Linked DNA regions of Homo sapiens: region 2 is linked to region 1. A link means that fine-mapping ties the variant in region 1 to the expression of a gene that starts in the linked region. Tissue or cell type: thyroid. Region 1 holds a variant in brackets; the other region holds the start of a gene. All regions are shown on one strand. Distances are from middle to middle.

Region 1 (8,286 bases):
GCAGAACATAAGTGCTTATCAGTAAGGTAGCTGAAAAGGGGGTTCCTTGCTTCCTTTAGAATTAGGGTACAGCATCATCAGCTATGGGAGAGAGAAGAAGCTGGAAGGTTGGTGAGTAAAAATGTGATACATTCATTAATTTAAAAATTAAATTGTGTTCAAAAAATCCAGATGAAAAGAATATATACATATATAAAACTTGCAGGTTGAAATTAACATATGTCAAACCAAATAATTAAATACAAACTATTTTGATGTGCCAAGATATGAGCTCATAGCTCTGGACAATTAATAAGCTATAGTTCATTGACCTGTCTGGGTATTAATGAGCTCATTAAATCTCTTTTTTTTCCCCAACAATCACAGACATTACTTAGAAAATGGTAAATAGAAAGTCAGGTCAACATGAACATTTCTCTGCTAGCTTAAATCTACATTTAAATCATAATTTCATAAATTAAAATGTTAAGTGTATTTATTTTGAGATTGCCTAGAGACATTCAACTTTGCATTTCATAGACTTCTAGTATCATTTTATGTCTCCAGATAGAATATTTATCTGTGTCGAAAACCTTGAAATCATTTAAAGATATACTTTTCCTTTTATTGGCTACATGAAGAATATTTACCTGTGGGAACTATAAGAATTCCAAGCAATTTACTGTCTGGCCAAGAGTATCACATTTGCACATGATTTATTGATGAATAACTCGTGCAAATTTAAGTAGCACTTCATCAATAAATGTTTTTTTTAGCTGTACTGGGACAGAAATAGTGCATCTCTTTTTGGCCTAATGCTACCTGGACTTATCCTAAATAGTTGAAAAACTCAAGACAGTTATCCAGTAATTAGGCTATTATGAGAAACTCTCTTTGCCATGTTCACTGGGAGGGTATTATTGCGGCTGTTCACTCTCTCACTCTGTGCCTGCCCCATTAAATCCTAAGGGAGAAAATTCTTCCTGCTCTTAGCACCAGGATCAGTTATACTCACTGGCAACTGGTTTGTTTTTATTTTAAGACGTTGAGAGACTTTCCCTCCCTGTATTAACTCACTCTATTTCCCCCCTTTTATTGGTTGCTAGAGAACTGAAAGTAAAAGTTGAAGGCCACCTGCACGAGTCAGTTAAGTCTCCATGCCACACATTTGCTACAATAATAATAAGCAATAGCAATGATTATTATTGCCAACAGTTACTACTTTGTGCTAAGCACTTTACATGTGTTGTATTTCATTTAACATTCTTAATAATCCTAATATAAGAGAACTTTTATTTTTCCACCTTCACCAATGAGGAAACTGAAGCTTAGAGGGGTTAGTCAACTCATCCAAGGCTATTGAGTAAGTGGCAGAATTTCAACTCAACTGGTCTTTCCAACGTCAAAGATCGTGCTTCTAATTACTCTGGTATTCTGCTTCCTAGCCCATCTTTTGCTTCTGCCATTTTGACTCTGTTTCCTTTTGCTAATGAAATAAAGATAATGGACCAGGACTCCTGGGAAAAACTCAGGCCTCTCTTAATTCATCTTCTGAAAGGCTATGTCTTGGACGGGTGTAGAGGCTCATGCCTGCAATCCCAGCACTTTGGGAGCCAAGGTGGGAAGACTGCTTGAGGCCAGGAGTTCAGGATCAGCCTAGGAAAGAGAAAAGGAAAGAGGGGAGGGGAGGAGAGGGGAGGAGAGGGGAGGAGAGGGGAGGAGAGGAAAGGAGAGGAAAGGAGAGGAAGAAGGGCGGACCATGTCTAAGCCTCAGTCACCCTGTCTAGAGCTGCCCGCCTCAGAGAGAGAGTGGTGTTGGCAAAGTTCTCCACTGCCAGTTTTGTTTTTTTTTCCCCAGATGGCATGCTTTTTAGAAGTCCAGGAGAGGTAATTACAGGAGGCCCTGGGGTTCAGTAAAGATGCAGAGGCACTGTTGCAAGGTTGTCCTAAATGTCCCAAGGCTGGACATGGTCGCCATGTGTGCCAGGCGGGACCTCTGTGTTGAACTATGTGGTTTGTGCACAAATACTCCTGCCAAAGGGGAGTGCAGAAACGTGTGGCCTGAATCTAGCCTGTGCTCCATGCTAGTGTTTCCAAATTCCCGACAGGTTCATCTTCAAGATTCAGGAATATACAATCAAAATTCCTAGGAATTTTCATGAGTTCCCAAAATTATATTATTCTGTATTTTTCCTAACATTTAATTTACATGTCTTTAAATAATAATGAATGCCTGTAATAATAGTGAATCATTTCTATCATAATAAACAGTGAATCATTTTTTGTGGTAGAGTTATGCTAAAAATTTCAGAGGTTTTCTGTAAAAAAAAAAAACTTATGTAATAAATGCATGATTTATTATTATTATGAGCCAAAATATGTGACATAATTATATACTGCAACAACATGTAACAACAATGTGCACCTGATATAGGAATTTCATAATATGAAACACTAAATGAGGGAAACATTAACACAAAATAAATGCCAAATAAAAAACATTTTAAAAATTGACAGATGCCATAAAAATATTTAATATTTATGAAGTATCACGCTTAACATGAAATTTTAAAACTCACAAAATATTAACTGTTCTCTCCAGTAGTCTAGAGGTTTGTTTCATGACAAACAGTCCAGACCAAAAAACAATATTTTTCATTTTGCATTGATGTTGGTAAAATCATTAAGAGCCTGCCAAAAGGATCTCCAAGTTGAGCATTAGGGCTTGTTTTGTATAAGCTCATGTCCTTTCTGAAATACAAAATTTTATTTATTTTACTTTTTGAGATGGAGTTTTGCTCTTGTCACCCAGGCTGGAGTGCAATGGTGCGATCTTGGCTCACTGCAACCTCCGCCTCCTGGGTTCAAGCGATTCTCCTGCCTCAGCCTCCCAAGTAGCTGGGATTACAGGCGTCCACCACCACACTCGGCTAATTTTTTTGTATTTTTAGTAGAGACAGGGTTTCACCATGTTGGCCAGGCTAGTCTTGATCTCCTGACCTCAGATGATCCACCCACCTCGGCCTCCCTAAGTGCTGGGATTACAGGCGTGAGCCACCACGCCCAGCCAAAATACAAATTATTTTTAATTGACAAAGAATAATTGTGTATTTTTGTGGAGTACAATGTGATATTTTGATAAATGTTTACACTGCAATGATTGAATCAAGCAAAGCCACTGGCAAATGCCCTTGGTTGATTTGACCAAAGACATGGAAAAGCAGAAAGAAAACATGAGTTGAGTCAAATGCTTTTTCAAATACTCTGGACGTCGACTTTACACAAGGCCTAGATATCATCAATACTTGCTATCTGACATCAGAAATGAATATTAATCTGGGTTTTGGTGAGTCATTCCCCTTGCCCTCCTGCAAATTCAAGTACTTAAATACATTACGTGGCCAATTATTATGTAAAATATTCTCATATATGCTATCTGACTTGAGAGAAATGAAAATGAACCAATCCACATTATAAACACCCACAATGTCTCAGAAACCACGCTGTATGTTTCAAGTGTGTTTTCTTAAACTTTATAATAGTCCTGTAGTACAGGTATATTAATTTTATTCCAAGTGTTGAGAAAATTAGGGCTCAAAACTGTAACGTTTCAACAGCTACGTTGCTAGTAAGGGAAACAGCCTGGAGTTTAACCAAAGTCCGCTTTAAAAATCCATGTTATTTCTTCCATACCATACTACAAATCATAAAATGGCAGCAAGTCTCAGTGTCAGCTGTTTACCATGGGCACTCCCCAGCCAGGAGAGAGGGTTGGTACCAGGCAGCCTGGTTGCTCCATGAGGATGAATCTTGCATCCTCAGGGTAATAAGACCTTTCCCTGCACACACTTAGATAAAACAACAGGAATGCTTACTACTCTTATTTGAAAGAAACATAAACTTGGAATCAGCATATACATCCTTGGGAAAGTATTTTAAATGAACATTGCAAACATA[C/T]TACCACAGGCCTTTCTTACCTTTAAATATTTCACCAGCTTCTGAATTTGCCAATATTCTGATGGCAAATCTGCACTTGCTTCCTGACGATGGTCAGGTGGTTCTTCATCTTCCTCACTTTCTGAGGAGCTATCGCTAACAGTTTCCTCAATCTTTTCAGCACTCTTCCTAAGAACAATAACAACACACATACACATGTAAGCTACAGTGTGGAGATGGTTATAATCATATTTTGGCAACATGGGCACAAGCAATGGATCAGATACCAACACCTTCTGAGTTCTAGTAGATCTCTGTTAAGATCTACATGAGGCCAGGTGCAGTGGTTCATGCCTATAATCTCAGTGCTTTGGGAGGCTGAGGTGGGAGGATCACTTGAGGCCAAGAGTTCAATGCTAGCCTGGACAACATAGCAAGACTCTGTCTCTACAAAAACAAATTTTAATTAGCCAGACATGGTGGTGCATGCCTGTAATCCCAGCTACTCAGGAGGCTTGACGCAGGAGGATCGCTTGAGCCCAGAAGTTTGAGCTGCAGTAAACCATTATTACATTATCATACCACTGCACTCCAGCCTGGAAGACAGAGTAAGACTCTCTCTCAAAAATAAAATAAAATAAAATAAAAAGGAACTGCGTGAGGTGAATAAACCTGTCTCTATTGCAGGTGCAATTGCTCTGGGTGCAATAATCATAATAAAGAAAACAGTGAGAAATAAACAAGGGTATTCAGTGAATGTCTTAAGGCTGCACTTTTCAATAAGACTGCCACTCATTGCATGTGGTCGTCTATAGTTACAGATATTTGAACTTATTTATTTAACTAAAATTAAAGAAAATTAAAAATCCAGTTCTCCAATCACACTAGCCACATTCAAGTGCTCAATGGCCCACGTGTCTCGTGGTTACCATACTGGACAGCTCAGATATTGACTATTTCTATTATTCCAGTAAGTTCAACTGGGCAGTGCCACAAGGCCCTAAAGTGAAAGAGTCTCTTTTACCAAAGAGAGTCAATATTCAGCACATCCCTCCATAATGCCTACACTGAAGTACTTGCAAGGGCACAAGGTGCCAAAGAACAGCAATAACATGAACATAATCAGGTTCAGGACCAAAGAGTTAGCCACCAACTCTGAGAGACATTACCATGCAAAGTGTTGAGTTCCACAGAAGTACACCACATTCTATGGTTTGATGCATGGACAACAGTATTACAAGAGCCTTCTGGAATCCAATATATGCCCTATGTCCCTGCAGAGGTCCCTCATGCACATGCACACTCATCACACCAACTTGTCTCCACCTCCCACTGCCGGATGCCAGGTTACTGCCATTGGGTCACCAAATCCACAGTGATGTCTCAGGAACTACTCATCCATCACTCACATGTGGAGAGGTGCTGAACCCAGGATATTTATCCTGATATTGTTTCCCACATATTCCTCATCTCACAGGACAGAAGCAAACTTTTAAATCTTCTAGCTATTTTTAATATTAAATAATACCAACAGCAGCCACCATTTTTGTGTAGGTTGGTCTATTTTGTCCTAGGTACTTTTTTTTTTTTTGTGAGATGGAGTCTCACTCTGTCGCCCTGGCTGGAGTGCACTGGCACAATCTTGGCTCACTGCAACCTCCGCCACCCGGGTTCAAGTGATTCTCCTGCCTCAGCCTCCTGAGTAGCTGGGCTTATAGGCATGCGCCACCACGTCTGGCTAATTTTTTTATTTTTAGTAGTGACGGGGTTTCACCATGTTGGTCAGGCTGGTCTCAAACTCTTGACCTCGTGATCCTCCCGTCTCGGCCTCCCAAAGTGCTGGTATTACAGGTATGAGCCACTGCGCCCGGCCTGTCCCAGGCACTTTATATTTATTATTTCTAAACCTCACAACCACTTTGCAAAGCAGGCTCTATCATCCACATTCTACAAGCAAGGAAACCTCAGAGAAATTAAGAGGAGAAAAAAAACCATTCACATTGAAGGATCCAAAATTACTTAAAATGTGGCCCTTGCCAATCACATATTAAGGTGTCCTTAAATATCAAAGTCATAAAGTCAATGACCATTATAGATCACACAAGTCCACAATACTTTTCCTCTAATTCTGAAATTGAAAAATCTCTGAAAACTGATTTTTTTCCCCACTGGACTTAACTTGTTGCTAAAGACTTATATGAATTGATACTAGACTATTTATGGTCTTTATTCCTCTCATTCAGTGTGAATATTCATGTTTCACTACAGAAATGCTCATGTTTTTGATTATAGGGTATTGGCTCACACTCCAATAGAGGTTATCATATAATATATATTATATGAATTTCATTACCCTTTTTTAAAGTGAGTTTTTCAGAACCGCATGCATTTGGCCACGAGAGTTCAGGACAACAGACTGTGGGTTAAATGTCTCATTTTAATTCACTCAACAATCTATGAGGTTGTTATTACTCTCATTATAGAGACAATGAGTTAAAAATAATTTGGGCCGGGTGTGGTGGGCTCACACCTGTAATCCCAGCACTTTGGGAGGCCGAGGTGAGTGGATTGCTTGAGGTTGGGAGTTTGAGACCAGCCTAGCCAACATGGTGAAACCCTGTCTCTACTAAAAATACAAAAATTAGCTGGGTGTAGTGGCATGTGCCTCTTGTCCCAGTTACTCAGGAGGCTGAGGTAGGAAAATCACTTGAACCTGGGAGGCAGAGGTTGCCGTGAGGCAAAATTGCGCTACCGCACTCCAGCCTGGATGACAGAGCAAGATTCTGTAATAATAACAATTTGAACAAAGCTCCATGGTTAGTAAAGTGGCTGTGTTAAAACAAATATTCGTAATGAGAGCTGTTCATCTTGGTTCCTAGAGGAGCTGGGGTAGTCATTTAACTTGTGCGTGCCTCGGTTTCCTCACCTGCAAATTGAGGATGATAACAGCAGTTAGTATGTAAAAAGCTTATAACAGTGCCTGGCATACAAAAAGCATGAAATACGTGTTAGATAGTTCTGTATTATCATGCATATTCATTCACCACACATGCATGGAGGGCCTGCTGGCTGCCAGGTATCAAGGGAATGCTATTGAAGAATACTGTATTTCAGTATCTTTGTTAAACTCCAAGGAAAAGGTGTGGTTTTGTCTTTGAAGATCTGATCTGTTTTCATCTTAAGGACCACATAAATTAAGTAACTGGTTAGGTTTTTGTGTTTACCTCGATGTTCAGCAAGAACAGAATCAAATCTGTGGTCTATGAGTAATTACCTAAGTTCCCATTATTTTGTAGCTCAGTACCTTGTCCACTTTGGTCACCATCAGAAAATTTTTATTTCTGTGTTTTCTTGTAGTGTCTTCGTAAGTTCCATGAAGGCAAGGACCGTTTCTGTCTTTTATACTTTTTATACTGTCTCCCCTAGCACAAGGAAGTCAGTAAATAATTGCTACAAGAATTAATAAATTAAAGCAGGTATGAATAAGTGAATGAACAAAATTCAGTCTAGGTTTAGATTTTGGAAGAAGGGTACTTCTGGTGATAATTCCAGGAGGTGGCAGTAGCAGCAGCTTGATGGAGAGGAGGCAACAGTCAGTGAGACTGAAACCAGGGAGTGCGCAGGCCAAGATTTGGTATTGGTTTTCCTCCTGGGGTTTCAGGTTTTTCAAGATGATGATGGGACATAGGATGAAAGTGATAGTGAGTCAATGTCAAAATCGTCAGTGACAATGGGTCCATAGAAAACAGCAACCAGGAAAGACAGAGGGTTACATCAGCCTCATAGAAAAGGAGATCTAATCTGAAGAGTAAGGTAGTTTGAAGCAATAAAGAGGAGATTTCCGCCTACGGTCCCCATGCCCTGTGGTTACACAGAGCCTAGGGAAAAGAAGATCTGAAGGAGAATCGCTGCTGTCATGGAAAAGTTTCAATAAATGCAAGAAAGGAGAGAGTGGAGGCTTTGGTGCATAGGGTTAGGATATAAGAAAATTCATTTCCTTGTAGTATGAGGTGGGGGCAAGGAAAAAAATGTAGAAGAGAGAGCAAAGTGGAAGAATGATTCATTTGGGCTATTGCAGAGCAAGATACAGAGGAGAGTCCAGGAGGAGACAGGACTCATTCGAGTTTGCATTTAGAGTGGTGTCTGTGGGAAAGAGGAACCCAAGGACCCTGCCAGCCACCCCCTGGAGTAGTGTATTCATTCTGGGCTCCCATTAATCTTTAGAAAACATATCTGGGTCCCCAGTAATCCATAAAAAGGTTATTGACACAGTGCAAACCTGGAGTGAAATCAACCAGGGCTGAAAACGGGCCATCTGCAGATGTTTAACTTGGATTTACAAAAATAGAATTAGTGGAATCACGATCATTG
Region 2 (8,286 bases), 56 kb before region 1:
TATAAGTACAAAAATTAGTCGGGCATGGTGGCACACACCTGTAGTCCCAGCTACTGGGGAGGCTGAGGTAGGAGAATTGCTTGAACCCAGGAGGTGGAGGTTGCAGTGAGCCAAGATTGCACCACTGCACTCCAGCCTGGGTGACAGAGGGAAACTCCATCTCCAGAAAAAAAAAAAGAAGAAAGAAAGAAAGAAATGAACAAGAAAGAGAGAAAGAAAGAAAGAAAGAAAGAAAGAAAGAGAGAGAAAGAAAGAAAGAAGGAAAGATAGAAAGAAAGAAACAAAGAAAGAAAGAAAGAAAGAAAGAAAAGAAAGAAAGAAAGAAAGAAAGAAAGAAAGAAAGAAAGAAAAGAAAGAAAGAAAGAAAGAAAGAAAGGAAAGAAAGAAAGGAAAGAAAAGACAAGTAAATCCGAGTGTAGATCCAAACTGAGACACTGAGACTTCTTCCTTATAGTAGTCAGGAGCAGGCGATTGAAGTAATTCTGTCCTGTGGGGTTCAGCATCATGCAAGTTCCCCCTGGGCCGTTCTGCATCTGCAAGTGCAAATGCAGGGCACTTGCTCCACACTCTGGGAACCCAGATTAATCAGTCTGCCGTGTCACACAGTTGAAGGAGTTGCATTTATCTTTCTGGCTCCCAATTCCTTTAAAATTACATTTGTTGCAGAACCTCCACAAGGCTAAATAAAATAAAATTACATTTGTGGTCATCAGAGAACTGAAGGAACTATTAACTGGCTGTCCTGTGTTTGCTGAGATCTGGCTGTTGACAGTTCCTGGTTGGCCCCCAGTTACCCATGTCAGTTATCTCTGTTAACATTTCCAAGAATCTTTGTAGGACAATTCTCCACTTGCAAGGTCTTTAAAGTAGAACTCTGGTTTTTTTTTTTTTTCAAGGCAATTGGCCCATTGCCAAAAGGTTTTACTGTCTTAAAGCCAGAACTGTCTTTCTGAGATCTAATTCCAAGGACTCCTCCACAGCTAAGTGAGATGCCTCACACCAGTATTAGGTGATTCTTTGTGTGGATGGAACAGAGCATTTTCATCTTGTGTTTAAAGCAATTTGTTGGCTTCGGCTCCTCAGCACTTTCTACACCAGTCTCCCATTCACATCCCTAGTAATGCCTATGCGAAAAGAAAAAAAAGAAAAAGAAAAAAGAAAGAAAGAGAGAGAGAGAAAGAGAGAGAGAAAGAAAGAAAGAGAAAGAAAGAGGAAATGAAGGAAGGAAGGAAGGAAGGAAGGAAGGAAGGAAGGAAGGAAGGAAGGAAAGAAAGAGAAAGAAAGAAAGAAAGAAAGAAAGAAAGAAAGAAAGAAAGAAAGAAAGAAAGAAAGAAAGAAAGAAAAAGCTGATGGTGAAACCTACAGGTTTAAGGACTTAAACCTCAAGCTTTGTGTTAGGAGTAACGGGAGTGTGCTGAGAGGGCAAACGAGTCATACCAAAAAGCCACATTGCTCTCTCCTAAGCACCAAACCTACTCCACTCCTGAGGCCAGTGGTTCAAACAGAAAATAACTGGAGAAGACGAGGAGGTCAAAGGATCAGGGAACTAAGCATTATGTGAATTCACCAGAAAGATGTACAAAGCGCTTGTGTTTACATTGTTTTTATGGTACTAGCAGAATAAAACTGAACTATTTTAAAAATGAAAAAAACTGATATGATAACTTTACTTGTTTGATGCCGCATGGAGTATTATACATAATTAGAGCATATTAATATGAAAGTAAAATTTTTGAATGTTAAAAACCATTGTGCCAACCCTTTAAAATATTAGATCATTAGGAAGTCCATTTATTCCAGAAATGCAGGTGAGACTCATCGCGTTAGGAAATTCATTAACACAACAAATTATGTTAATTGAATTAATGAGAATGTCTTGTGTTCATAGATGGAAAAGAGATAATGCCAACATTTTAAAGAAAATTATTTAAAATAATTTAATTAGTATGGAATTGGTGCGAAATGTTTCTTAAAAACCTAAAAATAGATTTGTATAAATGAAAAATTATGACATTACATGATTAGGCAGGGTCAACATTATTAAGACATCAAAAGTACTTTAATTAATAAGTTGATTTTATGGCTGTATGGTATTCCATGGTGTATATGTACCTTTGCAAGGGCATGGACGGAGGTGGAGACCATTATCTTGCAAAGGAATTCAGGAACAGAAAACCAAATACAGCATGTTCTCACTTGTAAGTGGGAGCTAAATGATGAGAACACATGGACACATAGAGGGAAACAACACACACTGGGGCCTATCGGAGGGTGGAAGGTGGAAGGAGAGAGAGGATCGGGAAAAAAAACTAATGGACACCAGGCTTAACACCTGGGTGATGAAATAATCTGTACAACAACCCCGCCCTGCTGACAGACATTTCCCTATGTAACAAACCTGTACATCCTGCACATGTGCCCCTGAGATTAAAATAAAAGTCAAAAAATAAAAAAAATAAAATAAGTTGATTTTAACTCCAATATAGATAACATCTGTGTTCTGGATATAGAAATTTTATTGTAAAGAAGAGCAAACAAATTAAAATATCCATGAAAAGTCTGAGAATTAAAAGAGAGTGACTTCCCCTTTAAAATATTGTAGAGACTTGGAAATTAAAATTGTGTTGTGTTGTTTCATCATTAGTCTGAAAGACCAATGGAATACAACATTCAAAAATGGAATAAAACATATGTAAAAAAGTACTGTGCAATAAAAGCAGGAGTGTAGAAAGAAGAGGCGAAAGCTTGCTGCGTCTCATTGGGCACTGAAGCTCACAGACAGGCAGCAGGCTTTGTCTCTCACCACGTGTGCTTTCTGCAAGTCTGGTATTGCCACATGTGCAGGAAGGACAGTTACCATTTGAGCAAGAGCATTTTGGGGCTAATATGTGATTAATGTGACTTTTTCTGCCTCAATATTCATTGTAACCTGTTCTCATAGCCCACAGTATGTTTCCTGCTGAGCTGAGATGTTACTGCCATTAATAAAGCTGTATTGCCTGCAACTGTCCCCCTTTCTATGTTTGGGAGCTTTGAGAACAGTCACACATGATTGTGTAATTCTTTAGTTCGTCACTTGCCTGGTGAAAGACTTTCTGGGGGGCTCCTCTCCCTACTGGGCCCACAGGGGTAAAAAGCTAGTGAAGAGTTCTGGGACAGAACACTGCATGGGAACAGTGAGATGGGACACTTCAAGGTACAATGCTCTTAACTTATACCCAAACTGATGCAGACAGAAAGTTCCGCATGCCATCAGAAAATGAGAAAAAAAAAACACGTTTGGAAGGTGAAATCATCTTTGGTTGTGAAAAACACTATCTTCTTCAGAGGATGTGCTAAAATCAAAACTAACAGATGATCTATGTCTGGAATAAAAGTGGTCATTTGTTAACAGATGCTGGCGAGGCTGCAAAGGAAACTCCTATTCACTGTCTCTGGGAATGTAAATTAGGTCAGCCACTGTGGAAAGCAGTTTGGGGATTTCTCAAAAGATGTAAAACACAGCTACTAATTGACCCAGCAATCTCATTACTGGGAATATCCCCAAAAGAAAATACAACATTCTACCAAAAAGACACACGCAAACCTGCACACGCAGCACCTCTATCTAATACAAAAGTTGGCATTATTTTAAAAAGTTTTTATTTGTGAAAACTTTTCACCCATGGTAGGGATGAAAAAGTACATTCTCACTAAAGTCAAGAGGCACACACCCAAAGCAGCCCCGGGGGCAGGGCTGGGAAAGCCAGCAGCACCAGCATCCTCAGCACATGCCAGCAGGTGTTGGCTGAAGCAACAGGTGTCCTGGGGAAATGGAAAGGAGTTACTTAGACACAGTTGCTGATTCTCGAATTTCCTATTTTTCCCAGGATGTCTTTATCATTTTCTTACCCTCCTGTCTATGTTTAGACACATGGCCCTCAGAGGTGACTTGTTGGCTGCAGAACGAGGAATTCATCACTGTCCTTTGGTCAAGGTAGAGGGAGTTATGTAATTTCATAAACTGTCCATATGTGATGATGGAAATAAAAAAAGAACTGAAGAGATGGAGAAGATACATCATATTCATGAATAGAATAACTCAGTATCATCAGGATGTCATTTCTTACCAATGTACAGATTCAATGCACTTCTAATCAAAATGGAAGCAAATTATTTTATGGATATAGAAAAAGTAATTCTAAAGCTTATATGGGGAAGAAAAAGACCTTGAATAGCTAACACAATATTGAAGGAGAACAAAGCTGGAGGACAGACAGGCACTACTCAACTTCAAGACTTACTGTAAGGCTACGGTAATCAAGGCAGTATCATATTGATGAAAGAATAGACAGGTTAATGAAACAAGACAGAGAGTTTAGAAATAGCGACACATCGATATATTTAATTAATCTTTGATGAAAAAGTAAAGGCAACATGATGAAACAAAGGTTGGTTTCTTCAGAAAGTGGTGCTGGAACAACTGAATACCCACATGTAAAAAAAATGAATCAGATCTTACCTTCTCACAAAAATTAAGTCAAAATGAATCACGGACCTAAATGTCAAATACAAAACTATAAAACTTCTGGAAAATAACAGGAGAAAATCTAGACTCTCTTGGGTTTGATGATCTCTAGAAAAAAATGCCAAAGTTACAGTACATAAAAGAAATAAGTTCCTGATGGAATATAGATTAAAAATTTTTAATATACAAAATGAAAAAAAATCAGAAGAAAATATAAATGCCTATTTACACAGATACATTTTTATGTTGACAAAACCTTTCTAAGACTCTCAGAAATAAGCATTGTGAAGGTTAATTTAGCAAAACAAAAATTACCCTGCATTTGAGAAAAAATAAAAGGCAGCATACTTGTAAAATATTTACTACACATGTATGTGCATGTGTGTATATATAGCAGATTTAAAAATCTTCATTTTACAGAGAATTCACTCAAATCAACAAAAAAATCCTCTATTTAAAATTGGGCAATTTAAATTAGAGATGTAAATTGCAGATCTAAGAAAAGTACTTTGCCTCTAATTTAAAATTGGGCAAACTCCTTCTTCTAGATCTGCAAGTGACTTATGCACACAGGAAACAATATTTAGTGTTCCTCGTTAGAGAAGGCATTTAAGTTAAAACAGGAATCAAATACTGTTTTCTATCCACAAAGTTTATGAGGATAAAGAGCAGTGATATTTATACTGCTGCTTAAAGTTTAAGTTGCAGATGACTTTTCAAATAGACAATTTGGTGGTAAGTACCATATTTAAAAAATTGTATATGCCTGTTGGTGATCAATTCTATTACATTAAGATATTTTTAGAAAATAAGGAAACATACACACAATTTCTTTTTTGAGCGCTGCTTAAAATATCAGTGTATTAAGAAGAATCCATACAATGGCTTTTATAAATACATTTCAGTGAATTTACAGCGTGGGATAAAATGTGACCACTGAATGTAGAAACATATACAGAAGTATGTTGACATTTGAAAATGTATTTTGGTGTACCAAGTAAGGGTAAAGTTCAGTTTGTTTATACATACAGATGATGGTCTTGTGTTATCTGAAATTATGTACGAAATATGATAAAATTTGTTATTTGAGGGCATTTGTTTTAATATAAAATGTTTTTCCTTTTTATTATCTTTGATTTCTGCATTGAACAAGTACAATGTTATTAGTAAAAGTTTATTATTAATGAAATAATTTTGGGGAAGAGCAGGAATATGAATTTTGCACAGATTAAAATAATTTTTCACTTTCTATATTTTAATTTTTATTTTTTGTGGATTAGTATATTCTGTGAACTTTTAGCATTTTCAGAAGAGAAACTTTTTATCTGTGCTTGTTGATTTACATGTACATTTTATTAGAAACATATTTTTATTATATCTAGATTTATTATATATATGTCAATAATTACAGATTAATCATTTTAGTGTAGTTTTGTTATTAGGAAAATAAAGTAGCAAATATAAGTGCTTTATTTATAGCAGTTTTTTAAGATATTGAACTTCCCAACTATATTTATCCATTCTTTGAATCCATTTATCACATGTAAGCTGAATGCCTATTATGTAGAAGACACATTCTATTAACTCTCAAGACCCTTTCATCCTTAAAAATTTCACATTTACCTGCTCAGCCTCAGCAACATGAGAGGCTTAAAATTGGAGTAATAGGACTGAATCTCAATTGAAGCTTTTCCTCTCATCTTTCAAACAAAAATACTTCTGAAGTGAGAAATTAGTAAAAGATAACTACCAACCACGATTTTGGAAATTTATAACAGCTTTAAATAGTAATATGAATAATTGGAAATACCTAATTTACATGTACTCCCTCCATAAATCTAAATATGAATTAATATACATTCTGTAAATCTAAATACAAAATAAAATGAGCCATACCTATTCATTTGAATCCCAAGTTTTCTTTGGCTTGAAGTTTTTAAAATATTAAAGGAGTACTTTGTTTTAACAATTTGTTGTTTTTATTTCAACTCTCCTTTTGCGTAGTACTCTTAAAAGCTAAAATTTCTTTAAGTGTAAATCCTGTGATTAGGACTACCATCGTCCTGTTGTATATACCATATTCCACTTCATGGAAGGCACCCTGAATTGTGTGATGCCTCCTTATTTTATGTACCAATAAAAGATTGTTTAAATTTTTGCCAAATATAGTTCTAATAAATAATGAATTGTAAGTGGCATTTCAATGTCAGAGATGCTAAAATATGAGAAATTGAGCATCTTAGAACCGTTAAAATACAGTGTTATCTGTAACCTTTAAAACACACCACAAAGTAGGCATGATTGTATTATTTTACTTAAAATGTTGTCTTTGTTAAGTAGAAGTTATAATTATAATATCTAACAATTACTGAGCTGTTACATGTGCTAAAAACTCTTCAAAATACTTTGCATAGATTCTCATCGAGGCATCACAGTGATGTCCTGTGAGATAACTGCTGTATTCATCTTCACTTTATTGATGAGAAAATTGAGGCACAGAGAGGTTAAGAGACAGCTAGTAAGTGAAAGACCGTAAAGTTTATTCAAGCCCAAGTTGAACTGAGTCCAAAGGCCAAGCTCTTTCTATTCAAATAGGCCACTCTTTCATTAATGTAGTGAGTAATAAGAGTGAATGAATGTTGTACTTTCTTAAGGAGAATATTAAATATTTGTTTTGAAGGCAGAGAAAGAGCATGGTATTTAATGTTTACAATTGTATAAATCATTGTATGTTTTGAGACAATGGACTAAACTTTCCTAAAAAGTCCTCTCACTCTCATAGGACTGCTCTACATGGGGCCTGTGTCAACAGCCATGTGGAAGTAATAACACTTCTGGCAGACAGAAAGTGCCGGCTTGATGTCCGTGACAGTGAAAACAGGACACCTCTGATGAAGGTAAATAGTAGCCAGTCCTTTCAGCAGGAGATGGATTTGGTTTAAATACGTGGAATAAAAATGAATTTATCTCATTGAAATACAACTAGTTTCTGAAACCTGTGAAATATTTATTTTGATTTCCTATAATTTATAATTCACTTCTTGCTTTAATACTGACAGGCTCTACAATGCTGGAGGGAGGCTTATGCAAATATTCTGGTAGATTCTGGTCCCAGTCCAAATATTGTAGATGTGTATGGCAACATGGCTCTCCATTATGCTGTTTATAGTGAGAATTTGTCAGTGGTGGCAAAACTGCTGTCACGTGGTGCAGACATCCAAGTGAAAAACAAGGTAGACCTTAACCAATGTTATTTTCAAAATATTTGAAATCTGTTTGTTTTAACATTAACATATGCAAGTTTTTTTATATTTGGAAGCTCAAACATTCCTCAAATGAAAATAGTTTGAAAGAACTTGTCTAAGATTTTACTTTAATATTAATATTTTTACAAGAACTATTAGAGAGTATGGCTTTTCTGTGCACTTATGATAAATATTTGAATTTGTTAAAGGTAAAACTTATTCAAACATTTTTTCCCACCCAAGTTTTTTTTTCTTTCCAATTAGTGTAAAACTACAAGAAAGCAAAATTTGCCTGCATAAATTAAGTCACCGTGTAAAATTTAGGAGACATGCAGAAATCTGGATTTCCTCTTAAAGGATAGAATCTGGTGTCTCTTGAGCCCATATGACTGGTATGCTCTGAAGAGGTTCTAGCTTTACACAAAGCATATGTTTCCAGTTTGCTGCTGTGCCCACCTAGGCACATCACTTACTCAACTTACCCCTTTTGCCTCTGTAAATACTTCAGTTATCAATTCCTCTCTCATAGTATAT

What was found. PIP is the estimated chance that this variant, and not a neighbour inherited with it, causes the effect. A credible set is the group of variants that fine-mapping cannot tell apart.
Region 2: it holds the start of LINC02673, and the variant in region 1 is the best candidate, but not a certain one, in a credible set for the expression of LINC02673 in thyroid (GTEx, PIP 0.61).

The regions. Positions count from the first base shown.
Region 1 is chr10:27,284,495-27,292,780 of GRCh38, reverse strand. It overlaps the pseudogene ODAD2P1. Among named protein-coding and RNA genes, the nearest start is that of ACBD5, 48 kb to the right of the region's middle. The variant C/T (reference allele first, on the strand shown) is at 3,937.
Region 2 is chr10:27,340,257-27,348,542 of GRCh38, reverse strand. It overlaps LINC02673 (long intergenic non-protein coding RNA 2673), which reads right to left and starts at 5,107. Exons shown (of 2, transcript NR_187428.1): 1 at 3,892-5,107; 2 at 3,626-3,804.